Linked DNA regions of Homo sapiens. The protein of the gene in region 2 purifies or fractionates together with the protein of the main gene of each other region. This does not show direct contact. Each region holds a gene or a part of one and is shown on either strand. Other genes may lie near its edges.

Region 1 (3,746 bases), on a different chromosome or scaffold from region 2:
CGCCTAGGTTGTAGTCTTTTCAGGTTATATTTTGTCTGTATTCTCAAGTATCAAGTTTATGAGAGAACCAAACATCTCTAAAAACCTCTTCAGTAAAGCCTTTTCGTATAACAAAATACCCTGATCGATATCCTGTATAGAAGGCAACTGAGGAGCAGGGGCATTCCGGTGACCTCGTAAGGGTCGAATATGCGCGGGAGGGCGAAACCAGAGGCGCATAGCCCCCGGCCGAGCTAATGCCACCCTTCCCACCCGGTGTCCTCCCGCGCCCTCCAGGCCCCTTCCTCCCCTTCAGACCTGCGGGTCCCCAGAGCCGAGGCGCCAGCCTGTCAAAAGATACCGGGAGTCCTCCGCGCCTGGCGCCAGCCTCCAGCCCGCGCCCCTGGGGAGGCCGGGAGCGTTTCCACCACCGTCCTCTGACAAGCTCGCCGCTCGGCCGGGCTCCGAGGCCGCCGGGACGGAGTAGACAGTCGCGCAGGCCAAGCCCCGCCGCGCAGAACCAGTGCGCGCGGAGGCGACGCGGGCAGAGAGGAAGGAGCGCGGCTGCGCTCCCTGCCCGTGGCCAACCCAGCCCGCGCCTCCGCGCGTGTCGCGGGCACCCCGAGTCCCCAGCCCGCAGAGCCCAAGGGCCGCCGAGGCCTCCTCGCCCCTACTCCCTCCTCTACCTTCCCTCACCGGCCGGAAGACGAGGCTCTCCGCCAGGGGGAGCGCGCCGAGGCCCGGGGGTGACCGCCTCGAACATGCTTGCCCCGGGCCCCGGGGACGCTGTTGGTGTTAAAGGGGGCCCACGGGCAATTGCTGCATCCGGGCTAAGAGCTGGGGCTCCGATTCGACTGTTTGAGTAAACGAGTCGGTATCATTAATAATGACAATTGCACAAAAGAAAATAGGAAAGAAACCCCCTTTCCTGGCGCCGAACCAGGCCCGCCTTGGCTCGGAGCCACCGGCTCTTCTGGGTTTTCGGGGCAGCTGGCAAGAGGGAGGCAGGCAGAGGAGGCGGCTCCGGGTCCGACTGCCAAGCTGACCAGGGCGGTGAGCCCGTGACTCCTGGCGGCGGCCCAGACCCGGGTGCTGGCGTGCAGGGGAAGGCGACGGCCGCTGCGCGCTGGTTCCCGGACCCTGCCCAGCGTGGCGTGGAGACCGACGGCCGCACAGGGGTCACCGGTATCCACATGGACACCTCCTAATCGAGCTTTGTTCACCAGAGGGCTAGGCCCTTCTTTCCCTGGCGCTTCTCTTCCCCCCGCGACACAGCTCTTCCCCCTACTCCTTCCCGGGAGAGCGCGCACCCATGCAGTGGCCTCCATCTGGACGCCACGGGGCTCGGAGAGGCGATGACCCCTGGCAGCCCAGGCCGGTATCGAATTAAGTAAAAATTTTGAATGCCCAGGTGGCTGCGCGTAGAGCGGCAGCAGGCCGGGCTGGCGGCGCCCAGGTGCCCAGCGGAGGGCCAGGCGCTCAGAGCGCACAGCCGGCCGCCACCTCGGCCCCTGCCCCCCGCCCCGGGGTACCTCTGGCCTGTCGGGTGGGGTCGGGTCGCTGCGGCCGCGGCGGAACCCGGCTCCGGACCTGGATCACAGCATCCAGCGCGCGGCCGGCGAGGCGCCTCCTGTTACCCTGGGGCCGGCGTCCCTCGTCCCATCGGAGCGAGCGAGGATGCTGCGGTGCCCGGCGACAGGTCGTCGGATAGCATTGACAGCACCTTCCTTTCAAGGTGCTTTATGCCTGCCCTCTCCACGTGCGGAGGGCAGGGTGACCAACGCAAAAACCTGAGCTGCGCCTCCAGACCCGTGCGCCCCTTTGATGGGCATCTGTGGTGTTTATCTGTCCCCCGAAAGCGGTGACCGAGAAGTAAATAAATGGGCGAGAGGTGGTAAAATCCTGGCAGTATTTCCGCTCGTCCTGTCGCGAACTACATATCCCAGGGAGCCCGGGGCGCCGGGACGCGTGTCCACCCCGCCATCCACTTGGAGAAGGCGTTACTGAGCCTGGCCCGACGCACGGGCCAATCCCCTCGCCCTACACCTTGGCTGGAACCTGAGACGGATTCGCTCCCAAATGATGCTCCAGTGGCAGGAGCAACTCAAGTTCATCATTGTCCTGAGAGAGAGGAGCAGCGCGGTTCTCGGCCGGGACAGCAGAACGCCAGGGGACCCTCACCTGGGCGCGCCGGGGCACGGGCTTTGATTGTCCTGGGGTCGCGGAGACCCGCGCGCCTGCCCTGCACGCCGGGCGGCAACCTTTGCAGTCGCGTTGGCTGCTGCGATCGGCCGGCGGGTCCCTGCCGAAGGCTCGGCTGCTTCTGTCCACCTCTTACACTTCTTCATTTATCGGTGGATCATTTCGAGAGTCCGTCTTGTAAATGTTTGGCACTTTGCTACTTTATTGCTTCTTTCTGGCGACAGTTCCAGCACTCGCCGAGACCGGCGGAGAAAGGCAGCTGAGCCCGGAGAAGAGCGAAATATGGGGACCCGGGCTAAAAGCAGACGTCGTCCTTCCCGCCCGCTATTTCTATATTCAGGCAGTGGATACATCAGGGAATAAGTAAGTCGAGAAACGGCTCCTTACCTATTTTGGATGGCGGTTAAATCTGTTTCTCCCTTTAAGATTTTTCTTTCCAAGAACTCGTTTCTCCACAGCAGTTTATATTCCAGGATATTTGGTTACCCATTTTTCTCTGTAGCTGTAGAAATTGTTCCGAATTATAATATATGCAATATAATGTATTGTATATAACATATAAAATAATCTCCTAGCAATTTTGATTCAGATTCCCACATTATCAGGGCAAGACAAAGTCCCTCCACTTTGCTGGAAATACTGTTTCTAACTACTTTTCGCATAAGCTATTATAAGGGATTTAAACCTAGTTGTTAGAGACTTGATGGGCTTCATCTTTCTCTGGTGCGGCCCTCAATTTTCAAGGAGACATCTGCAGGTAAGCATGTTTTGAAACTGAAAAAGAAAAATGAAGTACTATTTGAAACTTCAGAGTTCGGAAGGAAAGTATCGAAGTATTAATCTCCTATATGATTGTAACAAATATTTTGTTCCAATGAATTTAATACTTTAACATCATACTTAAAACTTATTTTTATAATTCCTATACTTCTGAAATGATTGTCTCTATTATTGGTGGATGCTGACTGTGTGTATTTCATACAGAAAAAAATACTGGAATAAAAGGTTGTCAAGTAAAAGGCAGGTTGTAAATTTTGTTATTTGGCAAAAGATGATACACTACCTACTACTTTGCTTTTGCCCATGGCTGAGCGTGAGTTTTTTTTTTTTAAGACAGGGTTTCACTTCCTAGCCTAGTCTGGAGTGCAGTGGTGCAATCACAGCTCACTGTACCCTCAACCTCCCAGGCTGAAGCTATCCTCCCACCTCAGCCTCCCTAGTAGTTGGGACTACAGGCGTGTGCCACCTCGCCTGGCTATTTGTTTTTTATTATTATTATTATTATTTGTAGAGACAGGATCTCACCTTGTTGCCCAGGCTGATCTCGAACTCCTGGCCTCAAGCAGTCTTCCCTCCTTGGCCTCCCAAGATGTTGAGATAGTAGGCATGGGCCACAGTGCCAGGCCTGAGCGTGATTTATAATACTGATATTGTAAAGATTCATTGGCAGAGATTTTTCAAAATAAGATCATTATCTTTGGGAGCATCATTTGATCACAAATATCCAGATGTGATAGCATGAAATAAGTTAGTAAGAATATTTTTCCATATGGAATGCATGAGTA
Region 2 (3,746 bases):
CTCCCATCTTGGAAAAACACTAACACGTCTACGAGAGGAAGTGTTGTAAGGACAGCTGCTTTGAGTGACCAAAAAGAAATATTTAAATATCGGAAACTGGGGGGAAAATAGAGGTTAGCAATATCCGTCTGGCTGTTTTAGGCATAGGCTGAGGAGAAGAGGTTCTGTTGCCAAAGAGTGGTCCTGAGCTCCTTACGATCACGTCCAGCTAGGAGGAGATTCACACGGCTCCTCGGGCTTGCTGCAATACCCTCTAGGATCACCTGCCTCCCTTTGCCCTAATTCTAGGTTCATTAAAGCACCTTCTGTTCTGTGCTTCTGACCCACTTACTCCCACTGACTCACCTCCTGCCCCCTACCCTCCTCGGGACAAAGTATCCTATGCAGACAAGGTCGGGCCACGGCGCCCAGTGTGCAGCCCTCGGCAGTGAGTTAGGAGATGGGCTGGCAGGTTATGATGACTCTCTTTTGAGCCAGGCTGCACTGTGGGCACTCAAAAACCAGAAGGGCAGATAGAAAAAAATAGTGGATCCTCTGAAAGTGCCCAGATGAGGAAGAGAGCCTGGGGCCATGGGGATGCGCAGAACAGCCTGTCTGTCTCTCTCAGTCAATTCTGATGACTCCTTGCACCCGTAGGGTGACAGCCAACTTCACAGGGAGGCCCAGAAGTCTGGACTGGGTACTCTGAAGTCCAGATTGAGGACAGGACTTGCCTGAAGTCTCGCAGCAAGTGAGTAATGCAGCTATCTGGGACTAATGATGCCAGGACTCCTGGCTCCCATACCAGGTTGTCATCCCTGGCCAGTGTTGGGCCCTGGAGGGGGATGAAGAGTGTGATGAGGGTGGCTCAGAGAGGGAATCAGCATGGAGGGGGCAGGGGGTGGCTGGTGCCGTTACCTCGGAGGGGCGCCTTCCTCCAGAAGCCATCTCGGACCTCCACATAGTCGTACCAGCACAGGCGGCTGCGGTACAGGTCCAGGGACGTGAAGTTCAGGATGATCTAGGGCAACAGGGGAGGAAGAGGGTTAAGCTGTCCCGAACATTGCACCAGCCCTCTGCCAGCCCCATGATGACCACCGCCCGCCTTACGCGAGGCAGGTCCCCCTGGGCGAGAGTTAAGGGGCTCCCAAAAGGAGCTCCTGGCACAGAACCGCCCCTCCTCCACAGTTGTCTGTGTATGGTCAGCTTTCTTCCTAGAAGGCCCAGGAGGGGAAGGAGACGTCACTTTGGGTAGAACCCCTGGCTCCAGCTCTCTTCATAGTCAATTAGATAACACAACCCACAATATCTTCAAGAGGAACTGGTCTCTACAGTGGTAGGAAGGGCCAAGGGCCGCGTGAGGGTACTGGAGGGTCTGAAGTAGCGACGAAGGGTCCCAAGAGGAGAGGCAAGAGGAAAGAAGGGCTGAGTCGCCAATCATCACTTTTTTGTTTGTTTGTTTGTTTTGAGTCAGGGTCTTGCTTTGTCACCCAGGCTGGAGTGCAATGGTACAATCACAGCTCACTGCAGCCTCCACCTCCCAGGCTTAAGCCATCCTCCGATCTGAGCCTCCCAAAGTGCTGGGATTACAGGAGTGCGTCACTGTGCCCGGCCCCATCATCATTTATTGAGTACTGATTCTGGGCAGGGGGACACACTAACTGCTGAAAGGACACCAGATCTGAATCCGTCCCTGTCCTCAAGAAGCTCCAGGCTTAGGGAGGGATGAGACATACGCGTGAGAAAGCTCAGACCCCAGTCACAACAGCCTGGGTGTGAATCTCCACTCTGCATTTCCTGCTGTGAGTCATCAAGCAAACCACGCAACCTCTGAGCCTCTGCTATGTCCTGCGTGCAATGGGGAGAAGAGTCCCTACCCTGACATCACACTTCCAAGGCACAGGCACTGTCTGTCCTGAGCACCTCATTTCAGGCTCCAAGCTCAGGAAACGCTCGCTCGCTACTGGAGGAATGTTACATCTTGGTAAGTACCAATCCTCCTTAGCAGGTGGGCATTTTAACAGGTAGAGAGTTTAATGGCTTCCCTCCACTTCCGGGGGGAAACCACTTCCTCGGTAGGTCCCAGAGTGGGCCCAAAGCCTGCTGTGTATTCAGAGTTCCAACAAGTAGGGATTCCAGGGATGTGTTCACCGTGACCTGCGAGGCCAGTGCAGCGGACACTCGATGGTTTCAGGGGTGTCCTGCTCTGGGAGAGCTGGGTTCTCTGCTAGAGAAGGGGACCGTCTGCCTCCCTTGTACCTTCTTAGAGAGTTAGAGGCAGAGTGGAGGCCAGGATGAAAAAGATTCCAAGGTGGGCACTGGCAGTGGCTGTCTGTAGCCAGCATCAATGCTAGTCGGGGAGGAGCTCCTGGCTCCTGGTCACTCTGACACGGGCCCTATCAGAATACCTGGTGATTCCAATGTCCGCCTAGAGGACCCTTCCCACTTCTTGGCCGCTCAGTTCTGCGACCTCCTCTCTCCACCTCTCTATACCTTCCCGGCCACACACCAACACGTCACGCCGTGCAGGCCGGCTTCATCGAAAATTGTCTGCCCCTCCATAATCTCAGTTTCAAGGGCCCCACTCTCCATTCAGTTTCCAGCCTTTCCGTCAGTTCTCATCACTGCGACTTTCAACCCACTGCACCCAGGGCAATGCCACTGCCGGTCACCCCCATCTACTCTCTCTCCTTACCCAGCTTAGCTCCACAGCCCATCCTTTTTCTTCTATTCTTTTTAAAAATTCATATATGAGTTTAACTATATTTATTTGGGGGACCTTTTATTAATTGTGGTATTCTGTGATATAATTGAGTAAGATCATGTTTTTGAAAAGCACACTACAGGCCAAGCGCGGTAGTTCACTCCTGTAATCCCAACACATTGGGAGGCCAAGGCAGGTGGATCACTTGAGGTCAGGCGTTCAAGACCAGCCTGGCCAACATGGTGAAACCTCATCTCTACTAAAAATACAAAAAAAAATTAGCCAGGTGTGATGGTGGGCATCTGTAATCCTAGCTACTCAGGAGGCTGAGGCAGGAGAATCGCTTGAACCTGGGAGGCAGAGGTTGCAGTGAGCCTAGATCATGCCACTGCACTCCAGCCTGGGTGACAGAGGAAGACTCTGTCTCGAAAAAAATATAAAATAAAATAAAGAAAAGCACACTATATATTACTCTTGGTTATTATTATCATCATCAAAAGTTATTGTTACTATTATAAGTCCTGGCATTTTGAAACTCTGAAGATGCAAGTCCATTCTAGCTCTTGCGAGGGAGTAGATGGCATCTCATTACCAAATGTGGACCAGGCATGGTAGCTCATACCTGTAACTGAGCATTTTGAGAGGCTGAGGCAAGAGGATCGCTTGAGTCCAGGAGTTTGAGACCAGCCTGGGCAACACAGTGAGACCCCCATCTCTAGAAAAATTAAAAAATTAGCCAGCTATGGTGGCATGTGTCTGTAGTTCCAGCTACCAGGAAGGCTGAAGTGGGAGGATCCCCAGAGCCTAGGAGGCTGAGGCTTCAGTGAGCCGGGATTGCACTGGCTCACTGAATGGAAATTTGGTTTTATTATTTATATTATATATTATATAATATATAAGATATGTGTGTGTGTGTGTGTGTGTGTGTGTGTATCTCCATCAATAGAGACCTCAGGGGGCAACTGAATAATTAAATTGAGAGAAATCAAGACGATAGTATTCTAAGCAGCCATAAAAATGACTGAGTGCTGGCATGGAACGGCGACCACAATTCATTGCTGAG
Region 3 (3,746 bases), on a different chromosome or scaffold from region 2:
CAGCTACCAAACCGTCCTTCACATAAATTTCTGTTCAGCCCACAAGCTGAAAAGCCCCCTCAGCCTCTTATTAAAGACCCATTAAATAAGTCCTTCACTTCTTGATCAAAAGGAATCATCGCTGTGACTTCTAAAGTGTAAGAAAACCAAACCTTTAAAAGTACCTGTCCTCAGGGCTTGGGGCAGTAAAAAAAAAAACAATCTAGGTGAAACACCTTCTATAGGAAAATTTATTTTTTTTGAACGAACTTAACCAGGCAAAGCAAGTAACTAGCAACATGTGCACAATTTACTTGGGCAAATGTCGCCCGTTCCTCCTCGGTGTCATCAGAAGGTACACTGGGAGAACAGAAGGGTTGAATTGAGCTGGTTTCCAAGGAACCATGTCAGAGCCGCTGCGGAGTTAAGAGCTGCGTCCACACAGCAGCCAAATCATGAAGTTGCAGGAGCGGCTGTTGTTAACCCACAGCTAAGAATAACGCTCGACTTTCCAAAATAAAACGAAGAAACGAAGTCCCCTGGCCAAGGATTCGGGGCGGCACAGAGGGGAAACGGAGCTTCCTGCACTGCCCTCATCACTCAGAACCTGGGGTCCCAGGCGATTCAGTCACCGCCCACAGAACAGCGCCGCGGGCACCACGTGAGACTCCCGGGGCCGGCTGGGAGCGGGGGACGAGGGGCGCCCACTCGGGGGTCGGCAGTTTGCAGGTGCGATGGGCGGCCCCCTCACCCACGTTTATCCGGACTGGAGCCCGCCGCTCCCGGCTGGGTTTCCGGGTGGTTCGCGCTCCTTCTGAATTGGCAGCGAGGTCGCGGCAGGTTCGAGGTAAATCGGACGAAGAGGGGAAAAAGTCTCAGGGGTCTGGGGGCCTCCGCGCCTCAGGGGAGGCAAGGGCCGGGCCAGAGGCGCGAGGGTGGGTGAGGGATTCCCGCCGCGGGGCCGGGACCGGGGCTCGGGCAGTGGGCCATGCCCCGCGCGCCCACGCGGGCCGCCCTACCGTGGCTCTGCAGGATCTCGTGCTTGAGGCCGCCGGTGTAGTCGATGAGCTCCTCCAGGCCGCGCTCGCACAGCTGCCCGTAGCCTGAGAACTTGTGCAGCACCTTCTCCAGCTCGCGCTCCACCGTCACGCACTGATCCATGCCGGAGGCGGCGGCGCTCGGCTCCTCGGCGCCCAGGTGTCCGCAGCCGTTCGGCCCGGGCCCCACCGAGGCCGCGTCCTGCTCCTCGTTCCCCAAGCGGGCGGCGCGGGAGGCTGAGGCGGCCGAGGCGGCGGGCGCACTAGCCGCGGCGCCGGGGGAGCCCCGCGCAGCCGGAGCCCGCCTGCCCCATGGCGCCCTAGCCCCCCGGCGAGTCGCCGCTGCTCCCGTTCGCTCGCTGCACTCGGCTCCGCGTCCCCAGGCCCCGCTCGCGACGTTCGGGTGCCTGCGACGGCGCGGCCGATTGTTTTTGTTTTCACGGGAACCGACCGATGACCTGGTTCTCCCGGGCGGCACCAAGCGCCGCCGACTGGGGGGAGGGGGATGGCCACCCGGGCGAGGAAAGGAGGCGGCGCGGGCCGTACCAAGTACACCCTCGGGGTGGGGGGTGCGACCCGGCGAGAACGGGCGGAGGAACGCGACGGGCGCCCACACGCGCCGCCACTCTAATGGTGTGGGCCGTACCACACGGAAGGCGTGCGAGGGAGAGGGCGAGGGTGGAGCGAGGCCCCAATTGGCCTGAGGAGCTAAATAGGGAACTTTGGAGACAGCCCCAGCGCTCGGAGAGCGCAACAACTACGCGCTCCATAAACAAGGAGGCGGAAACCGGCCCTCACCACTCCGCCCAGAAGCGGGGAACCCCAACCAATGGGCGCGGGGAGTGGTAAGAAGCCAATCCCTGGCCGAGGCGTAAGCCTTCAGCCAATCCGGGCTGAGGGGCCAAACCAACGGGCTCGCTGTTGGAGGGGGTGACTTGGAGAGCGTACCGAGAAACGAGTAGTTTATGGAAAGCCTTGGGGGAAAACTAGACAAAAATACAAAAGGCTGTTTTCCATAGGACGTCGCCCTGATCCCAATTTATTTCGTCTCCTCATCGATCTTAAGGGAAAGGGGTACCGTCATTCCGAACTTTTGGGCGACGGATCCATCTCCCGGGAATGAAAAACCAAGCCAGGCCGCCCGGGGGCTGGTTCTGCGTCGGCGGGGGGTCCCTAATGGGAATTAAAGGCGGGGGTGATTGGGCCCGGGTGAGGGGAGCCGCTTGCTGCTCGCGAAAGGCCCGCGCCGGCTGTCAGCGCTGCCCCGGGCTTGCGACACCCAGGAGGTCATGTCCCCATCCCCCGCGGACCGTGGCCCTTTGGCCCCTTGGCCTGGAACCTCTCCTGACGGTGGCCTCGCCCCAGAGCCATGTGCCGGGCAGCTTAGCCGGGTGGAAAGAACACGCGCTGGAGAGCCGGGCAGCCTGGCCCTTGCTCCCTAGGAAGCCTTATGCTATCGGATCGGATCGGCTTTACCCCCTCGGGTAAATCCTTCCCATCGCTTGCTATGGCGTCTGCAGCCTTGGCCTAGACCTCCTTGATCAGCATCGGCTGCACTACCTTTGCATTTCTTCAGGAGCCCAGCTAGTTCGTGCCTCAGGGCCTCTGCACTTGCCCTTTCCTTGGCCCAGAAAACTCTTCCTCCTACCTTTTTCATCCTGAAGTTCTTCTCAGCTCACTTGTCCCCTTACAGGGTCCTCCCCTGGCTGACCACACTAATGTACTTCCTCCCCACCGTTAATACCATAACACATTTTATTATTTCCACACCACTTAAACTCTGAAATGATCTGATGTTTTATTTTTCTGTCTGCACCACTTACATAAAACCATGACGGCAGGCCCCCTGCTTGTCTAAATTTTTTGCCTAGAACAGCCCCTGGCGTGAGGTGGTAGGCAATTCTTTTTCTTAAATTAACGTGATAACGTTTTTGAGCCTTAACTTCCGTATAACTGAGAAATAATTGGAATTAATACTTAACTAAATTGTTAGATAAAGGAGAATATATGTAAATACCCATAATAGGCTCATGATAACCACATGATAAAGGTGGTAGTAGTCATTATTAGGGCAGCCCCAACTGGTATTATTTCAGATCTCCCTTCTCCCCACCCCATTTTTCTTCCCTCTTGGCAGATGTCTCTGATTCTTCACTGAGATTAAAAAAAAAAAAAAAATCTAGCTCCAGCAACTTCTATCACTCTTCTCCAAGTATTGCTGTGTACCACCCATTTTGTGAACATTCTCATGTACCCAAAGGACCAGGAGTCCCTTCTCCCTTTCCAAGACAGCCGTTGGGGCCTGCGGGCTGCCTCTCACCCCTGTCCAGATCTTCCCCCTCTTTCTCTGCAGTAGGTTCTTCCTTTCTACTTTCAGCCCAAATGGGTTTGACCTACCTGGGGGAGGAAACTTAATTTAACCCTCCTCAAGCACTCATTTCTTTCACTGCCAAACTGCCTAGACAAATCTATGTTTATTCCTCCCTTTTCTTCAAGGATCTCCTTGATAAGCTCAGTCACCCTTTTCTCAGTCTTTTTTTTTTCTTCTCCTTCAAAGGGTTGTTATAGTATGAAATATTCCATTTAAGGCACTCAACAAAATGCCTGGCACAAGGTAAGAGCCATGATAATCCACTGATCACAAATAATCAATGACTCCTCATTACCTACAGCTTCAGATCCTCTCTCAAGGACATGGTCTGCCCTGTGTAGCAACACAGCACAAACCCC

The links.
Region 1: the proteins of BMP1 (region 2) and POGLUT2 purify together in Homo sapiens (affinity purification with mass spectrometry; 2 studies listed by BioGRID and IntAct, with this or other methods). This does not show direct contact.
Region 3: the proteins of BMP1 (region 2) and RMND5A purify together in Homo sapiens (affinity purification with mass spectrometry; 2 studies listed by BioGRID and IntAct, with this or other methods). This does not show direct contact.

What each region holds. Positions count from the first base shown.
Region 1 is NC_000013.11:102,797,287-102,801,032, reverse strand, and holds the start of POGLUT2 (protein O-glucosyltransferase 2 isoform 1 precursor), read left to right. Parts: upstream 1-2,056; 5' UTR 2,057-2,362; coding exon 2,363-2,544; intron 2,545-3,746. UniProt on the Homo sapiens protein: Protein glucosyltransferase that catalyzes the transfer of glucose from UDP-glucose to a serine residue within the consensus sequence peptide C-X-N-T-X-G-S-F-X-C. Can also catalyze the transfer of xylose from UDP-xylose but less efficiently.
Region 2 is NC_000008.11:22,189,303-22,193,048, reverse strand, and holds part of BMP1 (bone morphogenetic protein 1 isoform 3 precursor), read right to left. Parts: exon of another isoform or gene 3,630-3,746; intron 1,964-3,629; exon of another isoform or gene 1,454-1,963; intron 1,001-1,453; coding exon 898-1,000; intron 1-897. UniProt on the Homo sapiens protein: Metalloprotease that plays key roles in regulating the formation of the extracellular matrix (ECM) via processing of various precursor proteins into mature functional enzymes or structural proteins.
Region 3 is NC_000002.12:86,718,062-86,721,807, reverse strand, and holds the start of RMND5A (E3 ubiquitin-protein transferase RMND5A), read right to left. Parts: upstream 1,518-3,746; 5' UTR 1,141-1,517; coding exon 999-1,140; intron 827-998; exon of another isoform or gene 686-826; intron 1-685.